Linked DNA regions of Homo sapiens: region 1 is linked to region 2. Evidence: fine-mapped expression QTL. A gene starts in region 2. The other region holds a variant in brackets. All regions are shown on one strand. Distances are from middle to middle. Region 1 holds the start of MIR935 (microRNA 935). Region 2 holds the start of CACNG8 (calcium voltage-gated channel auxiliary subunit gamma 8).

Region 1 (11,746 bases), 25 kb before region 2:
CGCCCCTTCGGGATCAGTCCGTCTCCCTCCCCCGGGCTCCCAGGGCCTTCCCGGTCGGGTTCGCGCCAGGCTCAGCCCCAGGCCAGGGCCCCCCCTCGGGGCTCCCACCCCCGACTCCCGAGCAGGGGCCCCTCTCGCTCTCCTGCCTCGGCCCCGCGCCGACCCCAGCTCCGCGCTGCCTCCGAAGCGTCCGGCTGTGCCCGCCACCGCCACCGGCCTGGCCTCCGCCCGCGCCCGGCCTCGTCCCCACCCGCCCACCCCCCACCCTCCACCCTCCACCCTCGGGGCTATTTCGGGCTTGACCCGTAAATAACACCCGCACCTGTCGCCCGGCGCCTGTTGCCATAGGGATCCCGGGTGTTTTAAGGGGACGAGGAAGGGGGGAGGGAGGCCGCCCGGGGAGGAAGGGGCCGAGCCTGATGGGACTTTCATTTCACTAAGGGGCAAGAGCGGCGCCGAGAGTCCCAGCTCCGCAGTCTCCCGGGCAGCAGGAGACGGGCGGGGCAGCAAGTCTGACTGGGGTTACCAGGGAGGAGGGGCGGGAGGCAGGGCCCCGGGTCTCAGGGAGGAGGGCCTGAGGCCAGGAGTCTTGGGTCCCTAAGGGAGAAGAAGCCTCGGTACCCCACTTCTGAGTGGTAGAGGAAGAAGGCCTGGGTACCCAGAATCTTGGATCTGAGAGGAGAGGAACCTGGTCTCCTAGGTCCTGGGCTCCTGAGTCTGAGGGAGGAGGGGCTGGGGGCCTGAACTCCTGGGTCTGAGGGAGGAGGGGCTGGGGTCTGGACTCCTGGGTCTGAGGGAGGAGGGGCTGGGCCTGGGCTCCTGAGTCTGAGGGAGGAGGGACTGGGGCCTGGACTTCTGGGTCTGAGGGAGGAGGGACTGGGGCCTGAACTCCTGGGTCTGAAGGAGGAGGGGCTGGGGGCCTGGACTCCTGGGTCTGAGGGAGGAGGGGCTGGGGGCCTGGACTCCTGGGTCTGAGGGAGGAGGGGTTGGGGGCCTGGGCTCCTGGGTCTGAGGGAGGAGGGGCTGGGGGTCTGGACTCCTGGGTCTGAGGGAGGAGGGGCTGGGGCCTGGACTCCTGGGTCTGAGGGAGGAGGGGCTGGGGGCCTGGGCTCCTGAGTCTGAGGGAGGAGGGGCTGGGGGCCTGGACTTCTGGGTCTGAGGGAGGAGGGACTGGGGCCTGAACTCCTGGGTCTGAAGGAGGAGGGGCTGGGGGCCTGGACTCCTGGGTCTGAGGGAGGAGGGGCTGGGGGCCTGGGCTCCTGGGTCTGAGGGAGGAGGGGCTGGGGGCCTGGGCTCCTGGGTCTGAGGGAGGAGGGGCTGGGGGCCTGGGCTCCTGGGTCTGAGGGAGGAAGGCCTGGGCCTGGACTCCTGGGTCTGAGGGAGGAGGGGGCAGGGGGCCTGGACTCCTGGATCTGAGGGAGGAGGGGCTGGGCCTGGACTCCTGGGTCTGAGGGAGGAGGAGGGCCGGGGAGCCTGGACTCCTGGTCAAGGCGTTGGCAGACCCAGAGTCCTGGGCCTCAGGGAGGAGACTGGGGCCAGAACCCTGGGTCTTGAAGGATGGAAGGCCTGATTTCCATGTTGGAGAAAGCGCAGGCCTCAGGGCAGGGCCGGCTGTCAGGGGCACAGAATGAAAGCAGCACTCCTCTTCATCGAGTTTATTAGACGGGGCACCCCTGGGGGACCTTCCATGCAGTTTCAGCTCCCCCAGGAGCAGGGACAGAGGACAGCCGTGTGGCATGGCGGCAGGGCCTGATCTTCAACCCCTCACCCCCTACCCCTCAGCCCTTCTGTGGACGGCCCAGGTGGGACCCACCTTTCACCAACTCCTTCTTCTCCCACAGTTGGCTGCTCCAGGCAGGCCTGGCGCTGACCTGAGCGAGGCTCTGGTGCACGCTGGGCCTCTCTGCCCACCCCCTGCTCTGGACTTTTCCGATGGAGCACGTGTTTCCCCGCAGTGTGATTGTCTGTGTCTGGTTCTTCCAGCAGACTGGGGCCGGGGCCAGGCACAGGAGGAATTCACCTTGGCATCCTCAGCTCTACCCGGCACAGGGCCAGGTCACAGGCAGTCTTGGAAAATGTGCATGGGGTGACTTGAATGAATGGATGGATGAATGGGCAAAGGAATGACCAGATGGAGTGAGATGATGGCACACAGACATCCCCGCCCCAGCTAGGGGAGGGGCCTGCTGCGTTTCCTCAATGCCCGCGTGGCCCCGTCAGAACACAGCCCCCTCTGTATTCTAATTGTCTGGACTACCTGTCCCCCCCTCTGAAGGCAGAGATGGGACAGAAGTGGCCTGAGATTGCAGGGCCTTGTACTTGGAAGTCCTCAGGAAATATTTTTTTTTCTTTTTATTGATCATTCCTTGATGCTGTGCTTGCTTCTGAGTCTCCACGTTGCTTTCTATGCGAATCTCTGGGTCTTTCTCCGGCTTACGTCTCCCTATCTCTGTGGTTGTGTTTTTGTTATCTCTGGGACTTCTCTGATTTGTGTACCTGTCAGTCTCTCTCCTCCTCCTTTTCTGTCTTCTCTGTATCACCTTCTTGTCTTTGACTTTATTTCTTTGACTTTCTTTCTTTCTGTTTTCTGAGACAGGGTCTTGCTCTGTGGCCCAGCCTGAAGTGCAATGGTGCAATCATAGCTCACTGCAACCTTAAACTCCTGGACTCAAGCAATCCTCCCGCCTCAGCCTCCCGAGTATCTAGGACTACAGGCGTGAGCCACCACGCCACAGCTCATTTTTCATTTTTGTAGAGACGGGGTCTTACTATATTGCCCAGGCTGGTCTCAAACGCCAAGCCTCAAGCAATCCTCCTGTCTTGGCCTCCCAGAGTGCTGGGATTACAGGCATGAGCCCCCAAGCCTGGCCAGAAAGTATTTCCAAGAACTGAGTGAATGTTTATTTCTGAAAATGAATGATGAAAACGTGTTCTTCCCCTTCACCTCAATAGGTCTTGACAGGGTCTACAGGGGGAATCCCAGAGTGTGCCCGGCGCTGACAGCAGCAAGAGACAGGAGCTGGGCAGAGCATCCCTGGCTAGGGGATCTGCCAGAGCCTAGCTGACAGCATCCTCTCTTCCCTGCCCCCTGAATTCATCTTCCCCTCCTGGCCCTGGGCTTCCCCATCTCTCTTGCTCCTGCCTGCTGTGACAGCTAATTGCAGGATGCAATTTTCTGCCTCCCATCTCCCTATCTGCATGTCTCCCTACTTCCTTTCAGGGTCATTTTTTTTTTTTTTTACCTTTTTTCTTTTTTGAGACAGAGTCTTGCTCTGTCACCCAGGCTAGAGTGCAGTGGTGTGATCTTGGCTCACTGCAACCTCTGCCTCCTGGGCCCAAGAGATTCTCCTGCTTCAGCCTCTCAAGTAGCTGGGATTACAGGTGTGCACCACCGCACCTGTCTAATTTCTGTATTTTTAGTAGAGACGGGGTTTCACCATATTGGCCAGGCTGGTCTCGAACTCCTGACCTCAAGTGATCCACCCACTTCGGCCTCCCAAAGTGCTGGGATTACACACGTGAGCCATCGCACCTGGCCTTTGTGTCAGTTACACACACACACACACACACACACACACACACACTTGCCTGAATTCCCTTTCCTTCTGTCTTCCCCCCAAATTCTCTCTCCCCTCCACTCCAGCAGGGCTTCTGTCCCCACCACTGCACTGAACTGACATCTTATCTTATCAAGATCACCAACCCTGTCCATGTCATCAGACCTAATGGTCACTCTGCTCTCTGCATCCTTGTCCAAGTCTCAGCAGCCCTTGGCACAGCTGGCTGTCTCCTCTCCTTCTTGAAACACAAAGGTGCATTTGCCCTCTGTAACCCTCCTGGTTTCAGCCTACCTCGAGATCACTCCTAAGCTCGTTTTGCTACATCCCCTTCTCCCCCAGATGTAGATGTCCCCAAGGCTCTGGCCAGGGTCGCTTCTCTGTCCCCACCCCCCTGCTAGGCCACGTCACCCAATCCTGTGGCTTTATGTTGACGTTTCCAAAACTTACGTTTTTGAGCCACGGCCTCTCTTTCCCCCAAACTCCAGTCTCACATATCCAACTGGCTATTTGATACCACAACTCGGATTTCTCGAAGGCAGATCTATCTTGACACATCCAAAAGAGAAGCCTTGGTTCCTCCCTCCCAAAGCCACTTTCCTGATCCCAGTCTCCTCGTTCCTGGTAACAATCCTCATCGGTGCCCATCAGAGATGTGCGTGCCCAATTCAGAGAGTTCTTCTCTTCCTGGTTCCTTTTCCTTCCCTCCTCTATGACATCCAGTTCACCACCAATGCAGGCTCTAGCCTCCAAAATCCCATGCCTTCTTCCACTTCCTCCATCCCACTAACTCCACCTTGGTCCAGGCCTCCAGCAACCAGAGGAAGGCAACAGCCCGCTACCTCCTTCCTTCCCCTTTGACTCCTGAAGTCTACGTATGCTCAGCACAGCAATGTAATTCTGCTGTTCTTGTTTAAATAAAAATATGAGGCCGGGCGCAGTGGCTCACTCCTGTAATCCCAGCATTTTGGGAGGCCGAGGCAGGTGGATCATTTGAAGCCAGGAATTTCAGATTGGCCTGGCCAACACGGTGAAATCCCGTCTTTACTAAAAATACAAAAAAATTAGCCAGGCGTGGTGGCACATGCCTGTAATCCCAGCTACTCAGGAGGCTGAGGCAGGAGAATCACTTGAACTTGGGAGGCGGAGGTTGGCAGTGAGCCGAGATCAGCCCACTGGACTCCAGCCTGAGACAGAGCAAGACTCTTTTTCAAAATAAATATAAATAAGAAAATAAAAATATGATCATGGCATGCCTGTGCTCAAAACCCTCCAAGCACTTCCCATCAGATCTAGAATAAAATTCAGATTTCTTCCCAAGGATCCAAGGCCCTAACTGATCAGCCCCTACCCTGTGCCTCTGTCCTATGGTGGATCTGCTCACCGCACAGGCCTCCTCGAAGACCTGCTACTTTTCTGGGCTTTGGGGCTGCCTCTGGTGGGTGGAATGCCTGGCCCCCAGACTTTCTCACCTCTCTTTCCTACTCACAATCCACATCTCTGTGACCTCTGCCACAAGGTCTACTCCAAGGACCTCATCTAAAGTCATCCTTGCTCTGTCATTCTGTTACCACTCACTGTCGCCCAGGCTGGAGTGCAGTGGCGCGATCTCAGCTCACTGCAACCTCTGCCTCCTGGGTTCAAGTGATCCTTCTTTCTCAGCCTCCCAAGTAGCTGGGACTACAGGCACACCAGCACACCCAGCTACTTTATTTATTTATTGGTAGAGATGAAGTTTCACCATGTTGACCAGGCTGGTCTCGAACTCCTGACCTCAAGTGATCCACCAGCCTCGGCCTCCCAAAGTGCTGGGATTACAGGCATGAGCCACTGCGCCCGGCCTTCAGCTTAATTTTTAAAGCACTTTTTGGTTACTGAAATGATATTATTTATTGTTTATCTCTCCAGTGTGTTTCAGGAGAGCAGGCCCTTGTCCGTCTATTTGCCACCACATCCCCTGGCCGAGATTGGGTCTAGAACAGGTTGGCACTCAATAAATATTTCTTGAATACTGGGAAAACAACACACCAGAAATGGAGCATTCCTTGACGCTGCGCTTGCTTCTGAGTCTCCACGTTGCTTTTTGTGCGAATCTCTGAGTCTGTCTCCGGCTTACCTCTCCCTCTCTATCTCTGTCTCTGTGTGTGTTTCTGCTATCTCTGGGACTTCTCTGATTTGTGCACCTGTCAGTCTCTCCTCTTCCTCTTCTCTCTCCTCTGTATCACCTTCCTGTCTTTGACTTTTTCTCTGTCTGTGACTCTACTAGTTTGGTCTCTCCTGCTCTCCCCCTCCCTCCCCATCTTGCTCTTCCTCCTGCCTACCCTCAACCTCATTCTTTCTCTCTCTCTCTCTCTCTCTCTCGTTCTGTTTGGCCTTCAGACTCTAGAATCCATTCTCCCCTAACCAGTTCCCTCTCCCTCTTCCAGCAAATATTTGCTGTCTCTCAATTTTTTTTTTTTTTTTGAGACAGAGTCTCGCTCTTTCGCCCAGGCTGGAGCGCAGTGGTGCCATCACGGGTCACTGCAGCCTCACCCTCCCAGGCCCAAGCGAGATCCTTTCACCTCAGCCTCCTGAGTAGCCGGGACTACAGGCGTGCACCACCACACCCGGCTAATTTTTGTATTTTTGGTAGAGACAAGATTTCAATATGTTGGCTGGTCTGGAACTCCTGAGCTCAATCTGCCTGCCTCAGTCTCCCAAAGTGCTGGGATTAGGAGCCACAGCACCCGGCCAGATTTGTCTCTTTTAACACCCGCTCCGGCATCCCTCTTCTCTCCACGTATCCGTCTCTCTCACTCAGCGCTTCTCCGTCTCACTGATTTGTATTCCTTTTCCTACATTTCCCAGCATCTCTTCCTGAAACCGCCTTGGCAGAATTCTTCCTAGGGACCTTCAGTCTCTCTCTTCCTGGTCCTTCCACACAGGCCTCGGAGAGAAATTCTGAACACCCAGCTCTGATCTGTACCCTTCCGTCAAGAGAAGGGCACGCAGAGCCCCTGGCAGCATGGCACCACCGCTGCCACGTCCTCCTCAAGCTGCGTCTGTGCCTGTTTTCCCGCCAGACTGGGAGCCCCTTGAGAGCAGGGCAAGATCAAAATCACCTCTCCACTCCCAGCACCGCCCAGCACAAGGCTTCGGGGGAGGCCTCAGGAAACACTTGCTGAGCAAATATGGAAGGGAAGCCTACTGGGCGCTGTCCCCTCTGCCTTCTCAGTGAACTTCAAACCCATCCCCTCCAATCACCGCACAGCCCTTGCCCCCGCGCAGCTGTCATCCTCTCTCACCATCCTTAGAAGAGCCTCAGTCCCTCTGCCTGGAACTCAGGCACCTTTTTCTCTTTTTTTCTGAGACAGGATCTCAGTCTGTTGCTCAGGCTGGAGTGTAGTGCCGCGATCCTAGCTCACTGCAGCCTCGAACTCTTGGAGTCAAATGGTCCTCCTCCCTCAGCCTCC[T/C]GAGTAGCTGTGTCCACAGGTGTGCTCCACCACGCCCGGCTAATTTTTTTTAATGTTTTGTAGAGACAGGGTTTCGCCATGTTATCCAGGCTGGTCTCAAACTCCTGGGCTCAAGTGATACTCCAGCCTCAGCCTCCCAAAGCGCTGGGATTACAGGCATGAGCCACCGCGCCCGGCCACCCTGGTACCTTTACACTCTAGCTTGTGGCTACTTTCCCGGCCTCATCTCCCAGCCCCACCTTGTACATCAGCATCCCAGAACTGTTAGCACTGACCCCAATACATCATGCTCGTTCACTTCCTCCCGTTTTCACCCAAGTTGTTCTTTGGCCCCACAAGCCTTTCTCATGCCTTTCATCAACCAGAAGATGCCCACTCATTTCTTCAAGACCCAGAATGGGCATCATATTCTCCAGGAAGCCTACCCCAAGTGCTGCTCACTCCTGGCAGTTGGTCACTCTGTCCACCGTGTGCCACGGTACCCACGGTGGTCCGGGTTCCAGCACCGATTGCCCTGCCTGGATGGCGGTGTTTGATGACAATAAACTGCTTGAGAGCAGGGCTAGAGTCTGTTTCACCCCTGGGGATCTGGATCCTAACACACTTCCTGGTACCTTAGCAGATGGCCAAAAATGGCAATGGGTGAGTGGCTGAATGAACGAGTGACAGACACATGAGTCTCTAAGCCCCACGGCTTTCTCCTGCACACCAGACACCATGACTATGCTTCAGCATCTGTGTAATTACGTGCTTCCTCCCACAAGAGTGTGAGCTCCAAGGGCCCGTGCCCATGTTTGATGCTGTATTTCAGCACATCTCTGCCTCCTACTCTTGCCTCCGAGTTCCTGTCTTCCCTTTGTACACCATTCACGTTAGCGTCCTGCTTAAACCCGTTCCACGGCCCTCACCACTCCTAGAATAAAATCTGAACTCCTGACCTACGAGCCCCTGCACAATCTGGCCCTGTCTGTGTCTCCGGCCTCACCTTGATCCCCGCTCACCTGCCTCACTACCCTTCAGCCCTCGCTGCAAGCTCCTTCCTGCCCCGGGGCCTTTGCACGTGCTGCTCTGCCTGCCACACTCCTGCCCCAGCTCCGCCCTGCTGGCTTCTTCTCATCCTTTCACTGTCCACTGAAATCTCTTCCTCACAACTGGGTTAGGCTCCCCTGATGGAGCATTTCATAGCATCTCGTTTCTCCTATAGCCTAACTGTAATTTATTGTGTATGTACATGATCGATTAATGCCTGTCTCATGCACAAGATGTTTACTCTATGAGACGTCGGGGCCCCTGGCTGTTTTCCTGCCTCCTGCACGCTGAGCACGGAGCACAATGCCTAGCTTTTTAAGGCGCACAAATAAATTGCCGGTAATGAATGAATGAATGAGAAGGCCCTTTCTGTGCCTCGTTCGTGTCCCCTGCTCCAATGCCTTCTTATGTACCAGTGCCTGGTACACAGTAGGTGCTTAATAAGCCCTTGTGGAATAATGAATGAAAAAAATGAATGAATGCCCGCGTCCAACCCTTCTTTCTGCCTTTCTGCATCCCTTCGCTGTGTCTCTTTATATAGGGCATATATATAGTTTGTGGGTGTAACTATGTATTCGTGTATTATGGGCCCCTCTCCAGGAGTTGGGCTGGGCTGGGAGTCCCTCCCTCCCCTCCCCCCGCCCCGCCCCCCATGCACACAGCAAAACATGAAAAAGAAAACATCTCGAAACTGCAAAAAACACCATGGCCCTCCCCCCTCCCCATAGATCCCCCAAAAAAATAAAACACGACGCTCCCTCACAGCGGCCCCCTCCCTCCCCTGCCCCCTCCCTCGGGGTCCCTGCTTCGGAGGGGGAGGGGGGCGGGGAGGGTGGGCGTGGGGCGGGCCCAGCAGTCTCCAGCGCGCTCACGGGGGAAAGCGGGGGCGCCCCCGACCCCGGCAGCCTCGATGCACGCGCGCCCGCGCACGCGCCCCGGACACGCCCCTCGGCTCCCCCGCCGCGCCCCTACACAGGCGTGGTTTTCCTGTTGAGCGTGTTGGTGTTGGAGGCGGCGGCCTCCTTGGCCAGGGTCCCGGGGGCGGGCGCAGAGGGCGCGGGTGGCGCGGGCGCGGGCGGGGCGGGCGGCCCGGTGACCGTGACCGTGACGCCGCCGCCCGCCTCCTTGGGGAAGGCGTTGTGCAGCGTGAGGAAGCCGGACGCCCCCCCGCGGTCCCGCTCGGCACCCGCCCCGCCGCCGCCTCCGCCGCCGCCCCCGGCGCCCCCGGCCGCGCCGCCGAACGCCCCCACGGCGCCGCCGCCGCCGCCGCCGGCCCCCGCCAGCCCCGCGGCCACGCTGCCCTTGGAGGGGTCGCGGCTGAGCGTGTACATGGAGATGTCCGTGGAGGCAAAGCCCGGGCCCCCGGGGCCGCCGGGAGACGCGTCCCGCGACGGCGACGGCTCGCTGGAGCGGGAGCTAGAGCGGGAGCGGCGGCGGTAGCGGAAGCGGTAACTGGGCAGACGGAGGATGGCCGAGGGGCCGCTCCCGCCACTGCCGCCCGCGCCCCCGCCGGCCTTGAGCAGGTCCGAGCGAGACTGGCAGTGCGCCTCGCGGCTGCGCTCGATGTAGATGTTGACGGCCAGCACGCCTATCACCTCGGCCAGGATGAACGACAGCCCGCCGAAGTAGAAGGACCAGCCGTACGAGTAGTGGTTTTTCTTCTCCTCGTCCCGCTTCGGGCCCGGCTCGCCCGCGTTGGCGGAGATGTACACGATCACGCCGATGATGTTGCTCAGGCCTGGGCGGGGACGGTCAGACGGGAGCCTCGAGGCCACCCCCGGCCCCGCCCCCGCCCCCGGCCCCGACCCCTGCCCGCCTGCGCCAGCGGGCCCAGGCGCCACCCCCAGGCGGTCTAGGCCCCACCCCGAGTGGTCTAGACCCCCGTCCTGGATCTGGCTGACCCAAGTCCTGCCAGAAGTGAACACAACTCCCCGCCCGATGCTCTAGGCGCTTCCCTGCTGGTCTAAGCTCCAACCCAGAGGGCTCCGGCCCACTCTTAGCTGGCCCAGGCCTCACCTCTGCTGGTCTAATCCAACCCCGGCTGGTCGAAACTCCATCCCCCAGGTGGTGTAGGGCCGCCAATGGTCCAGACTGCATCATGCGTGGTCCTGGCCCAGGCAGGCTCAAGCACCCCCTCAGATGGTCTAAATTCCACCCCCAGGTGGTCCAGGCCCTGCCCTGAATGGTCCAGACACGGCCCTGGATGGTCCAGGTCCTGCCCCCAGATAGCCCACGGCCCACCTCTGCCGGTCTAACCCAGCCCTGGCTGGTCTAAACTCTGCCCCAGGTGGTCTAGGACCCACCCCCAGATGGTCTGGGCTGCCCCCACATGGCATAAACCCCACTCCTCTAGCTAAGGTCCCAACTCTGCTGGTCTAAACCCCACCCTGGCTGGTGGTAACTCCACCCCAAGCGGTCCAGGCCCCACCCCTAGGTGGCCTAAGCCCCACTCCCAGCGAGTCCAGGCCCTGCCCTGACTGGTCTAAAACCCACCTTTGATGAGATGAGTTTCCAGGCCCTGCCCTAGTTAGTCTACCTCCACCCTTAACGTTATAAACCTGGGTTTTTCCCAAGCCTCATCCCTCTGCTCCTTTGAACTCTGTTAATGATGTCATCCTGCTGTGATCAGGCCCTGCCTTTCACTTATCTAATCTCTCTTCATATAATTCCTGCCGGAGTATCCATTCTAGGCCCTCCCCTACTGGTCAAAAATTTGCCTTTAATAAAGCAGGCCCCGCCTTCTACTCTAGGCCCCACCTCCAGCTTACCAAACCCCGCCCCGTGCGGATCTTGGCCAGGGTCCTTGCCGGTCTCGGGTCCTTGCCGGTCTCAGGTCCAGCTACTCCGGCCTTTCAGATCCTCCAAGCCCCACCCCTTGCAGATCTAGACCCATCCCCAAAGCACACCCTGCTCTTCAAATATGCAAAGCCCTCCCTCTTCTCTGTATTCTACTCCTCCAAAAAAGCTCTGCCCCTGGAATTTCCCAATGCTACTCATACGGGGTAGAAAGGGGGCCTTACCCCTTAATTGCGTGCCTCTTAAGTGTTCCAGTCCTAGCTCTCTGCTCGTCTAGGCCCTAGCTCTTGAGACGGCCAATCCCAGGTACTGACTGGCTTTGGTCGGCCTCTTGCTTCAATCAGCCAGGTTGATTCTCTGTGCCCTTAAGGACATAACCCCTCCCCCTTTGGCTTTTCCAGGCATCGCCCCGTCTTTTCTAGCCTCTCCTTCTCCAAATGGCCACGGGCAAGGGCCGATTCAGTCTCCCTTACCCAGCCCCTTTAGTTTCCACTTCCCGGCCCTGGACGGTTTCCCAGGACCAGCCCCCTCTTGGATCCACCAAAGTCTCCAAAGGCCCGCCCCTTAAAGCAGGCTCCTCATCGGCGCTCAGATCACTTTCTACCTCTCCTGGGCCCGCCCTCCAAGACCCAGCCCCGCCTCTCTATCCTCAAGAGCCCAATTGTGTCTCAAGGTCCCACCCCCTCCCCAGCTCCTCCCCTTCCGTCTCCAGGACGGCGGGCTTGGGATCCTAAGCGCCCGGCGTCTTACGCGCCAGACACCTGCCTGTGTCGGTTTACTCCTCCGAAGGCGACGCGAGAACTACACCCACCTTACCCAGCGGGTGGCGATGGAGCTTGGGGACCGCCTAGGAAGGCTCCGGGCCCCCGGGGGTGCTCGGGGCAAGGTGGCTTTGCAGACACACGAACGCGC
Region 2 (11,686 bases):
CGATTTTATCCCCCAGGAGACAGCTGACAATGTTTAGACACAATTTACAATTTTGGTTGTCACGACTGGGAAGGGCGCTGCTGGCATCCTAGTAGGAGAGATCAAGGCTGTTGCTCAGCATCCTACAATGCATAGGACGGCCCCTCCACACAGAATTATCCACCCCAAAATATCAACCATGCTGCGGTGGAAAAACCCTGCTTTGGAGACGCCCCTGGCTCTTCTCTCTCATATCCTACAACTGCTCCATCAGCAACTCCTGCCCACGGTAGCTCCAGAATATACTCAAAATTCAAACAACTTCCCAAACCCTGCTGCCCCCACCCTAGATGAGCCTCTCGTTGTCTCATTTGCCTTCCCCTCGGTCATTTGTTAACACAGCAGCAAGAAACATACCGCAAAAATGTAAGTCAGCTCGTGTGACTCCTCTGCTCAAGAACCTTCAACGGCTCCCATCTCCGAATCTAAAGCAAAGTGCTTTCTGGGATGTATAAGAAGCCGTGAGGCCGGGTGCAGTGGCTGACATCTGTAATCCCAACACATCGGGAGGCTGAGGCCGGAGGATTGCTTGAGCCCAGGAGTTTGAGACCAGCCTGGGCAATATAGTGAGACCCTGTGTCTACAAAAAATGGGGGCATGTGCCTGTAGTTCTAGCTATTTGGGAGGCTGAGGCAAGAGGACGGCTTGGGTTCAGGGGTTCAAGGCTGCAGTGAGCTATGGTCTTACCACTGCACGCCAGCCTGGGTGACAGAGCAAAACCCTGCCTAAAAACAAAAAAAGAAAAACAAAACAAAAACAAACACAGAAGCTGGCCAGGCATGGTGGCTCACATCTGTAATCCCAGCACTTTGGGAGGCCTAGGCGGGCCAATCACTTGAGGTCAGAAGTTCGAGACCAGCCTGGCCAACATGGTAAAACCCTGTCTCTACTAAAAATACAAAAATTAGCCGGGCATGGTGGCACACACCTGTGATTCCAGCTACTCGGGAGGCTGAGGTATGAGAATCGCTTGAACCCAGGAGGCCGAAGTTGCAGTAAGCCAAGATCACGCCACTGCACTACAGCTTGGGTGACAAAGCAAGACTCTGTTTCAATAAATAAATAAATAAATAAATAATTTTTAAAAAACAGAACCTGTGGGATGGGGACCCTGATACCCCTACGACTGCACCTCTTACTCCTACGTTCTCCGCCACCCACTCTGCCCCGGCCACGCTGACCTCACACTGGCTTGATCAACACACAGCCACACTCCCACCTCAGGGCCTCTGCGCCTGCTATTCCTACAGTCTGAAGCACTTTCCTCCATCTCTTACTTCCTTCAGACCTGTGATCAAATGTCACCTGCTCGGGGAAGCTTTTCCTAGATTCCTTATCTACTTCCCACGGGGATCCCTGACCCCTCCCATCCCCTCCCCCAACTCCTTGTCCTCCTTAGCACTCAGTTCTATCTAACACCCTAAAGGTTGACTTTACCTCCATCATTATCTGTCTCTCCCTTAGAATATAAGATATATAACGACAGGAGGTTTTGTCTGTTTGTTTTCCACTGCTGCAGCCCCAGAATCCAGAACAATGCCTGGCACATAATATAAACTCAATAAAAATGGGACGTTGAATGAACGAATGAATGAATGAATGACATCCCTACTAGATGCCACGTGCTGTCCTAGGGCTCCCATGATGGGAGCCCTCACACTTGGCTCTATGCCTGGTACTTGGTCAGACCAGTGAATGGACATGAACTCAAACTTCCACAGGAGAGGCAAAGAACATCACGAGAGCCGTGGGAGGAATGGGAGGCGAGACGGAGCAGATGGAGGTGACTGTGGGGAAGTGGAGACCCCCCAGCTGCTGCTCAGATCCGGCCCATCGTGGTCAGGGTAGAACACAGGCTTGTGCTAGATCTTCCGCCAGCTCAGAAGAAGCCGGAAATCAGAACTACAATGGGAAGCCTCCCTATTTTTAACTGTTGGCAATGGATTCAGATTTTGCTTTCAGTTTTAAACACTTTGTACACTAGACAGAGCGCATCTGTGAATCCCATCCATGAGATTCGAGTTCTGCTCTTGGCTCGGCCCCTTTCTCAGCTAGGTGACCTTGGGCAAGTGACTTCACTTCTCTGAGCCTCAGTTTACCCATCCCCAACAGCGAGGTGGTGCCCACCTCATAGGATTAAACGAGATAACGTTCCCGGCTTGTCGTGAACACTCAGCAAAACAGAGGAAGAAGGGGCAGAGGAAATAGAGGGGGATGAAAAAGAGAAGCAAGAGATTTCAATCTTTTGGCCGAAGGGGGCATCAGGATGGCTGGTTCCACTCCTTCACGTTGCAGACAAGGGCTGTGAGGCTGGGGTGCAGGAGGGAAGACAGTGGTCACACAGCAGGGCAGATATGCAGCAGAACTGGCACCCAAGACTCCTGCTTCCCAGCCCCGCAGCTACTTGATACTCAGGAAAGAAATACTGATGCTAAGAGTGGGAGAGAGAAGGGGTTGGCACAGCAGAGGGCAGGAGTCTTGGAGAAGTGGGGAAGTCGAGAGCCAGGGAGCCGAGCTAGGAGAGAAGCTGTGAGAGGGAGAACAGGACAGAGGAAAAGAACCAAGTCGAAGATCCGAGGAGGTAGCAGGGGCAGGAGCGAGAAGCCTTAACGTGAAGGCCTGAGGCATCGAGTCAGGAAGACGTCGAAGGAGGCATGAGTGGAGGAAGAGGAAGTGGAGTCCACTAAAGGAAAAAGGAGGAAAGGACCAGGATGGGAGGTTGGAGGGCACCCTGGTGGGAGAGACATGGGTGGGGGCACTGATGGGAAGAGAAAGATGAACAGGAGGAGAAGCACAAGGCAGAAAAGAGAGAAAGTCATGAGTGAGGGCGAGTTAAGGCACGAAGTTTCAGGGGAGCAGCAGCCAAAGAGAAGGGGAAAGAGACAGACCGGAAGACTGGGCCGTGAAAGGGGGCGGGAGAGGCAGGGGACTTCAGAGGACTGGGGGGGAAATGTCGGGAGAGAGAAGATGTCACGGGGCACGAGGGAGAGGAAATGAAGGGGCAGGTGGAGCGGAGGAGCAGGGTCAAGATGAACTGACGGGAAAGAGGGAGAAAGAGGCTGCTGGGTGCAGTGGCTCATGCCCTTCATCCCAGCACTTTGGAGGCCAAGGCAGGAGGATCTCTTGAGCTCAGGAGCTCGAGACCAGCCTGGGCAACAGGAGACCTCATCTCTACAAATAATAAAAAAAATTAGCTGGGCACAGTGGCTCATGCCTGTGGTCCCAGCTACTCAGGAGGCAGAGGTGGGAGGATGGCTTGAGCCTAGGGATTCGAGGCTGCAGTGAGCTGTGATTGTGCCACCGTACTCCAGCCTGGGCGACAGAGTGAGACCTTGTCAAAAAAAAAAAAAAAAAGAGAAAAGGCACAGGGCAGAGTGGAAGAAATGAAACAGGAGGAGCCCCAGGTACTGGAGAGAGGGAAGATGCAGGGGTGTGATGGGGCAGCGCAGGAGACACGGACTAGGGAAAGATAGGATAAGGGGGTTCAGCGGAGAGGCAGAGGGGCTGCAGAGGGAGCATGCCGAGGAATTCCGCAGGGTGCCAGGACGCAGGGAGGAGTGGGAAGGAGGGGAGAGGAGGTCAGGGGCGCGAGTGGGAAGGCGCAGAAGCCCCTCTGGCAGAGGAGGAGGGGTGCCCAAGGGGGCCCCAGGATCAGGGACAGGCAGCCCCGGGAGGCTCAGGGTCTCTCGGAGGGGAGCGGCGGGGGCTGCGGGGAGGGCCGCCCGCACCCTACCTTCCAGGCAGCAGATCCTCCAGAGGCCCGAGTGCGTGAGGCCGCCGGGGTCCTTCTTCTCCGAGGCGCCGCCGCCCCCGCGGTGGGGGGTCCCGTCGTCGCCGCCGGCCGTGAGGTTGGTGGTGTTGCAGATGAGGGCGCGCGTGTAGAGCCAGTAGTCAGTGCTGATGGCGATGGTCATGAGGCCGAAGGCGGCGAAGGCGCCCACCGTCGTCAGCAGCACCTGCACCCCCTTCTCGCACCAGAGGCCCCGCTCTTCGTTCCAGCGCTTCAGCGACTCCAGTTTGACCACGGGCAGCCGGGGGGCCGTGGGCCACCACCGGGGCAGCGGGGGCGGGGCCGTGCCGGCGGCTGGGGGGGGGTTCACAGCGCAGGCAGAAGCGGGGGGCCCGGGGCCGGCGGGGCTGGGGAGGGGGGCGGCGAGGAGGAGGCTGCGGCCGGGGAGGGGGTCAGAGCGCGGCCATGGTCGGCGGCTGGTGGAGGGCAAGGAGCGAGATCTCGCATTAGAGGAGAAGAAGGCACAGGTACCTCCCCCAGTCCCCGCCCCCCCCCCCCCAAAATCCCTGCCTCAGCTCCAGAAACTCCTTCCACTCGGGGCTCCACTGCTTCTCTTTCTCAAAAATAATAATAATAATAATAATAATAATAATAATTAATAAATAAGATGAAATCTCTCTCCACTCTTGTCTTCTGCCCAAGAAAGTCATCCCACCATCCCACTAACCCCACTCGGAGGAGTCCCCACCACCGCTAATAATTAATAAATAAGATGAAATCTCTCTCCACTCCTGTCTTCTGCCCAAGAAAGTCGTCCCACCATCCCACTAACCCCACTCGGAGGAGTCCCCACCACCGCTAATAATTAATAAATAAGATGAAATCTCTCTCCACTCCTGTCTTCTGCCCAAGAAAGTCGTCCCACCATCCCACTAACCCCACTCGGAGGAGTCCCCACCACCGCTAATAATTAATAAATAAGATGAAATCTCTCTCCACTCCTGTCTTCTGCCCAAGAAAGTCGTCCCACCATCCCACTAACCCCACTCGGAGGAGTCCCCACCACCGCTCACACTCACAGCCCTCGCCCCTAGCCCGCGCCGCCTCCGCCCCAGGGGGCTCCACGATCCTCATCGCATGGGAAGCCACCCCCCGCCATGATGCCAAGCCCCACGCCGCCGCCTCCTCCCCAGGAGCCCCCGTCGCGTTCTTCCTTCCTTAGCGACCCCCGCCCCATCACCATGCGGCGCCCACCAGCTCTCCCCACTCTTCCCCTGCAAGCCCCACCTCTCCACCCGCTAGAACCCTTCCCTGTCAGCCCAACTTTTCCCTGAGCGTCTCCACAACTTAAGAAGCCCGAGTAGCACCACTTCCGTGGGAGTAACCTCCGCGAGCCCCCTCCGGTCTGGCTTTTGTCATTCCATCACTCCAAATGGTCCCCCACAGTTTCCTCTCCTTAGGAAAAAATAAATCTCTCAACCTCTCTTCAACTAAAAAGGAAAAATTAAAAGAAGAAGAAAAAGAAAAAGAAAATCCCAGCTGACCCTCACAGTTTGTGCAACTCGGAATCACCAGCCACCCTCAGTCAGCCTCCTCTCCCTGGAAGCCCCCTTCCTGCCTCGGGCAGCCTCCAACACACCTGGAAATCACCCGAGGACCTTAAAAATTCGGATGTTTGAGTCCCACCTGAGAAAGTCCGACATGGTTGGTCTGCAGTGTGGCCTGCGCATGTAAGTTTTTAAAAGCTCCCTGGGGAATTCTAATGCACCCAACATCAGACCCACTGGTTTGCAAGCTGCCCCCCCCCCGCCATCTCCAGCCCATTCCCTGTCACAGCCCCCACTGTCTCCCCACAAGCCACTCACTCCCCACCCCATACTATGCCTTTACTCCAGGAAAACCCCCACCCTCTCTTTTGCTTTAGAAGAGTTTTCTGAATCTTCCCACCCCGCCACCCCCCCCCCCACAACTTAAACGAACTCATATCATAACCATCGTTTTCTCCTCCATTAAGAAAAATTTCCTCCGTGAGTTCCACGGCATTTTCTACTCGCAAGAATGGCTTCCTCCAGACCCCAAATGTCTCTCCACTCAGGACCATTCCAATCTCTGCCCTGTACTCCCATAGCAGGGGGCACACTGTACCACCCACCCGCCCCTCTGCACTCACAGCAGCTCCCACTGCCTCCAAATCCCCTCCTCGTAGCCCTTCATCATCACACGGGATCTTCAGCACACTGTTTCCCCCAACTTGAGATCCCCCTAACTCACTTTGAAGCCCACTCTCTCTTCAATGTACCAGGAAGCATCCTCCCCAACTTCTCTCTCATCATATAGAATTCCCTTGACTCACTTCCTCTTGCTCCACCGCTATAGCTCCCAGGTTCTCCTCTGCCCCGGAAAATCCCCTCCGCAGGCCCCCACAGGCTTCCCTTCTTGGGAACGCCCCCCAGTACTCCCCTCTACGACTTCACCTGTACAGGAACACACACTGTAGCCCCTCATCTTCTTCCACATGCAGAAAGAGCCCCCCCAGTAGACTGTGTCCCTCTGAAAAATGTGATCCGCAAGACTACAACTCTCTTTTCAATTAGGAATACTTTCCCAGCCTGCACCCGCTGCCCCGTGGCTCCTTCATTTCTCTCTTCCACATTCTCCCCCGACCACCATGCCCCCAGCCCTGCCTGTCTCCCCCACCCCAACTGTCCTCTGGGGGATGTACTCCTTACTTGCTTCCACACTGCTTCTTCAACTTCTTCCCCCAAACCCACTATAGTTAAGAGCCTGGAAACCTTAGACGAAGAGGGGATTAAAAAAAAACAAAACAAAAACCAGAACCTAGGTCCCAGTACAGGGTGACCTTGGCCTCCTGATTGCTTGCCCGTCTCCACTGCCCCCCATCAGCTGGCCTCAGACTGGGGCTGCTCCGAGGAGGGGCTGTGGAAAAAGGTTGTCTATGGGGGGTGTCTCCATGGCAACTGGGCCTAGTGCCCCACACGTTGTGTTCCCTCCCCCACCTCAACTCCCGTCTGCCCACACACAGCCCTTCCTCAGGCCACAGTTCAGCAGCCCGCTGGACAGGGCAACCCCCAGCCTCCCGGCCTGGGCGCCGGCCCCTTCCTCTCTTTTCTGTCCGCATGCTGAGTTTCCTCTCTTCTTGATCTCTTGGCCTCTTCTCCCCGAATTGGTGCCCCTCACCACCAGCAGGGCCACCTACCCTGTCTTAACAGATATCTGCTCTCAGTGGGGTAAGCCTGTGACCCCAGGCCCCTAACAACCTGGGATAAGAGGGGAAGGGAAGAGGAGGGAAAGGAGGGAAATTCTCCTTCCGTCCAAAAAAAAAAAAAAAGATTCGAAGATCTTTTCATTTTGTCAATTTGGGGCACAATCTGGTTTTAGGGACTCTTAGTCCATCGTTCAGCAGCTGCCAGGGAGAAGAGAGCTGGGGACCCCCAATTCTAAAGCTTCCGGATATGAGGGGGTCACTCTCCTTTCTCCTTAGGAAGGGGACCAGCTCTTTTCTCCAGAATTCGGGGGGGGGGATCACAGAACATTAATTCTACCTCCACCCACCTCCGATTAATAAAAAGATCTGTCTCACCTCTGTTAATGATAGGTCAACTCTCCGATGCACGGAGGAGGGGACGTCGAGCCCCCCCTGTTGGCACCCCCCCCAGAAAAACCTTTTGGCTCCCAATTCTCGCTGCTTCCCCCTCCCCCAGCAGTGAGGGACCCAGGCGTCCGACCTGGTTCGGGGAGTGGAGATGAGGAGGCGTATGGGGAATGGGGGTGCTGAGGTCAGGCTGGGGCTGGGGGGCAGCTCTGAGCCTGGGCCCCAAGGGAGTGAGGGTCGGGATATATATATTAAAAAAAAAAGGTGAGGAGACAATTTGGTTCTCGTGTCGCTGGGTAAAGTGCGGAGCTGGAGGACGAGAGGGAGGGAGTAGGGAGGGAGGGGGAGGGGAGCTGCTGAGGGATGGGGAGCCTCGGAGAGGAGATGGATGGGGGAAGGGAAAGAGGGGGGCAGGGTCGAGTGGCAGAAGGAAGCCGGAGGAGAAGAGAGAGATCCAGAGAGGGAGGGAGAGAGACAGAGAGAGACGAGGAGAAACGGAAAGAGAGAGACCCAGAGACCGCGAAACAGAAATGGGGGAGGGAGAAATTTGGGGGAGGCAGCGGCTGGAAGCAGAAGGAAGTTGGAGAGATACACACAGAGAAATATCCAGAGAGAGAAGGGGACAGGGACAGAGACTCAAAGAGAGAAACGCAGGGGCTGGGGGGGAGGGGGTGGGGGAGGGCTGGGGTAAGTGTGTGTGTGGGGGGGGTCAGGATCTGGGAAACAGAAGGAAAGAAGAGAGAGGGAGAGAGTCATCCAGAGAGGAGGGAGGAGGGACAGATGGGGAGAGACAGACAGAAAGAGAGAGACTGAGAGGATGGGGGAGAGAGGGGGGAGAGGGAATGAAATGGAGAGCGGGTAGGGAGAGAAATTGGGGATGGGGGCAAGGTCTTGCTAGAGAGAAGGAAGCTTTAAAGAGAGAAGAAGATGCGGAGAGGGAGCGGGGGAGCAAGATAGTAAATGAAAGAAATGGAGGGTAGAAGGGCCTGGATGGCAGAAGGTACCTGGGGAAAGAAAGGCAAGTGCAGGAAAAGAGGGAGACCCAGAGAGAGACAGACGGAGAGGGACTGAGACAGGAAGAGAGAGAGATCCAGAGAAACAGAGGCAGACACAGAGACTGGGGATGCACCCGAAGGAAGCCCAGAAAAAATAACGGGAGAGGGGTGAGGCTGAGAAGCCCCGAGGAGGTCAGAGATGAAGGATACCCCTGCCCCCGCCCCCTCCCGCGTCCCCAGCCCCGGATCCCTGCCCCCTCCCCCATTCCAATGCCACCACCCCCACCCCCACTAGCCTCCATCTCTCTTCAGCATCGCTTGCCGCCGCCACCGCCTCTTCCTGTCGTCATAGCAACAGGATCCAGGCGCCCAGCCAAGGCTGGCAGCGGCGGCCGGAAATGAGGGGAGGGCCTTTTCAAAAGGACCCCAGGAATGCTCCCCTTTCCCAAAATCCAAGGGAAAGCGCAACTTCCCGGGGTCTTCCCACCGCTCCTCCTCCAAGTGGCGAGGGCAAAGATTCCCCCCCCACCACCCCAGATAAAACAATATTGAACTTACCACGTTAACAAGCCTTTTGACTTTCACCAACAATTTTTTCTTTTCTCTTCTCATCCCCCTCCCCTCCCCTAGTTCAAACCTGATGGGGAAGAAGGGGTAGAGTTAGATGCCCCCGAGATGGGGCTGGGGCTGGGAAGGAGAGTAGAATGCCAAAAGCTTGGGTGCAAATATGTCTTAAAGAAACTTGTCTGGGACTGGGTAGGGGTCTATGCAACAGTTTTGAGAAGCATGGATCTGTCCGTTCTAGAACTAGCTAGTAGGTTGGGGAAGTGGAACAATCGGAGGTGGAAAGTCTGAGATCAGAGTCTGAAAGTTCGGTCTTGGGTCCAAATTTCACGGATGCTCCCAAGGCTTCGTGTGACCTTGGACAAAACACTTCTTCTCCTCTATACTCAGTTGCTCTTGGTTATAAAGGGCACAGAAGCTGCCTCCAACCAAGTGAGAACGCGGATGGGAAGTGGGATTGCACGTGGCTCTAGGCAAGCCGTTTACTCAAGACCCGATCCTCGTAAAAATGTTATCAGAAACTAAGAACTAGTAGCCATGGCTGATTGAAGGCTGTTGGCATGCTTCGCTGTCTTACAGAAGTCCTACAGAATCTTTGCCGTGTGGGCACCAATGTTCCTACATTAACCATGAGTAACCTGAGGCTCTGAGACAATAGGGGTTATGGGGGTGGAGGGCGGCCAACAATAGGTGAAATTCATAGTCATTTAACCCAGCACACCTTTACTGCTCCCTCCTGGGGGCTGGCAGAAACAGGAATAACCTGTGTTCCCTAAATCTATTTACCTAGTGTTTGCTCCTGCTGGTTCCTTCCTTTGGAGGGGCGATATCTTTCAGTCCCCAGCATCTCACATTTCTACTGAAATTTCTTTAGGTCGTTTCACTTAATTCTCACCCCGCCCCATGGGAGAAAGTTTAGACATGCATTCCAACACTCCTGGTTTAGAAGCTAAGAAACACAGCCCCCAAGGGAAGGGGTCTGGAATTCATTCGTTTGAGGAAAGTTGATTATTTTCTGCTCTTTTGCTGGGGGATGCGGGGGGAGATACATCAGCAAACAATGATGATAACCAATATAAACTGGACATTTAGGCTGGGTGCAGTGTCTCATGCCTGTAACCCTAGCAATTTGGGAGGCCGAGGCGGGCGGATCACCTGAGGTCAGGAGTTTGAGACCAGCCTGACCAACATGGTGAAACCCCGTCTCTACTAAAAATACAAAATTAGCCGGGCATGGTGGTGCATGCTTGTAATCCCAGCTACTTGGGAGGCTGAGGCAGGAGAGTCACTGGAACCAGGGAGGTGGAGGCTGCAGTGAGCTGAGATCGAACCGTTGCACTCCAGCCTGGACAACAAGAGTGAAACTCCGTCTCGAAAAAAATAAAAATAAAAACAAACTGGGCATTTAATATTACAGACTCCAAGGAGCCTGAGGGTATTGGTTCCATCTTCAAAAGAAGTGGGTTCTGTTAGCAGCCTCCACTTTAAAGATGTGAAAACTGAGGTTGAGAGGTCAGTTGTATTGGAGGACATTCATCAGGACATCAAATTCCAGAGCCTGTGCTGATACAACTGCACTGGTGAGAACGACTATGAAGATAATTTTTTAAAGCCAGGGTTTCCCAATCTCAACGTTCTCAACATTTGGGCTGGATAATTTTGTGTGGTGGAGGCTGTCCTGTGCATTGTAGAATGCTGAGCAGTACTCCTCGCCTCTATCCACTAGATGCCAATAGCACCTCCAAATAGCACCCTAAAAATAGCATTTGGGGACAACCAAAAATGTCTCCAAACATTGCTCAATGTCCCTTGGGGAACAAAATCGCCCCTGTTGAGAACTATTAAATTATACGAACTAGCAACTGGGGGAAACCTCTTTATTTTATTTTAAATGAAAATATATTTCCTAGTCCAATCAATATAGGCTCATGGTTTAAAAAAAGAAAAGAAAAAAAATCAAATGGTACACAAGGGACTACAATAAAAATAATTTAGCCTGTTCCACCTCAAGTCCTTTTCCTTATTGGAAAAGTCTATTAACATTCTTGTTTTTGCTTTTGTTCTTGTTACTTGAGACGGAGTCTCACTCTGTCGCCAGGCTGGAGTGCAATGGCGCAATCTCGGCTCACTGCAACTTCTGCCTGCCGAGTTCAGGCCATTCTTGTGCCTCAGCCTCCCGAGTAGCTGGGATTACAGACATGCAGCAACATGCCCAGCTAATTTTTACATTTTTAGTAGAGATGGGGTTTCACCATGTTGGCCAGGATGGTGTTGATCTCCTGACCTCTTGATCTGCCTGCCTCGGCCTCCCAAAGTGCTGGGATTACAGGCATGAGCCACCACACCCGGCCGTCTATTAATATTCTTAGCTATTTCTTCTCTTACTTGCCTTGACATCCCTAAATAATGATTTTCTTTTGGAATCAAAATTATACATTATTTATAGATATTTTTTCTCTAATAGATAACAAATCAATTCATGCAGCCCTCACTTTTCCTTCCCTTCTTCCTCAAGTGTTAGTTCTTCTATTGGTAATTTTGTGACACTAAGTGATGCATGATTACATCATGATTTATTTCAACAACTAAAGAGTATATCTCTTTTTTTCACAGCTTTATTGAGATCGAATTCACATATCATGCAATTCACCCACTTAAAGTGTACAATTCAACGGCTTTTAATTGTACAGAGCTGTGCAATCATCAACTTCAGATCACTTTTAGAATATTTTCATTAGTCCAAGG

What was found.
Region 1: its variant is fine-mapped to the expression of CACNG8 in whole blood (INTERVAL, PIP 0.97).

What each region holds. Positions count from the first base shown.
Region 1 is chr19:53,980,110-53,991,855 of GRCh38, reverse strand. CACNG8 (calcium voltage-gated channel auxiliary subunit gamma 8) reads right to left here. Exons shown (of 4, transcript NM_031895.6): 4 at 1,641-9,776. The coding sequence ends at 9,007. MIR935 (microRNA 935) reads right to left here and starts at 9,549; the gene lies at 9,459-9,549. It overlaps CACNG6 (calcium voltage-gated channel auxiliary subunit gamma 6), which reads right to left and starts at 219. Exons shown (of 4, transcript NM_145814.2): 1 at 1-219. RefSeq lists an enhancer at 11,341-11,746. The variant T/C (reference allele first, on the strand shown) is at 7,010.
Region 2 is chr19:53,955,512-53,967,197 of GRCh38, reverse strand. CACNG8 (calcium voltage-gated channel auxiliary subunit gamma 8) reads right to left here and starts at 4,261. Exons shown (of 4, transcript NM_031895.6): 1 at 3,773-4,261. The coding sequence starts at 4,055. RefSeq lists enhancers at 4,900-5,420, 6,231-7,131, 9,342-9,876.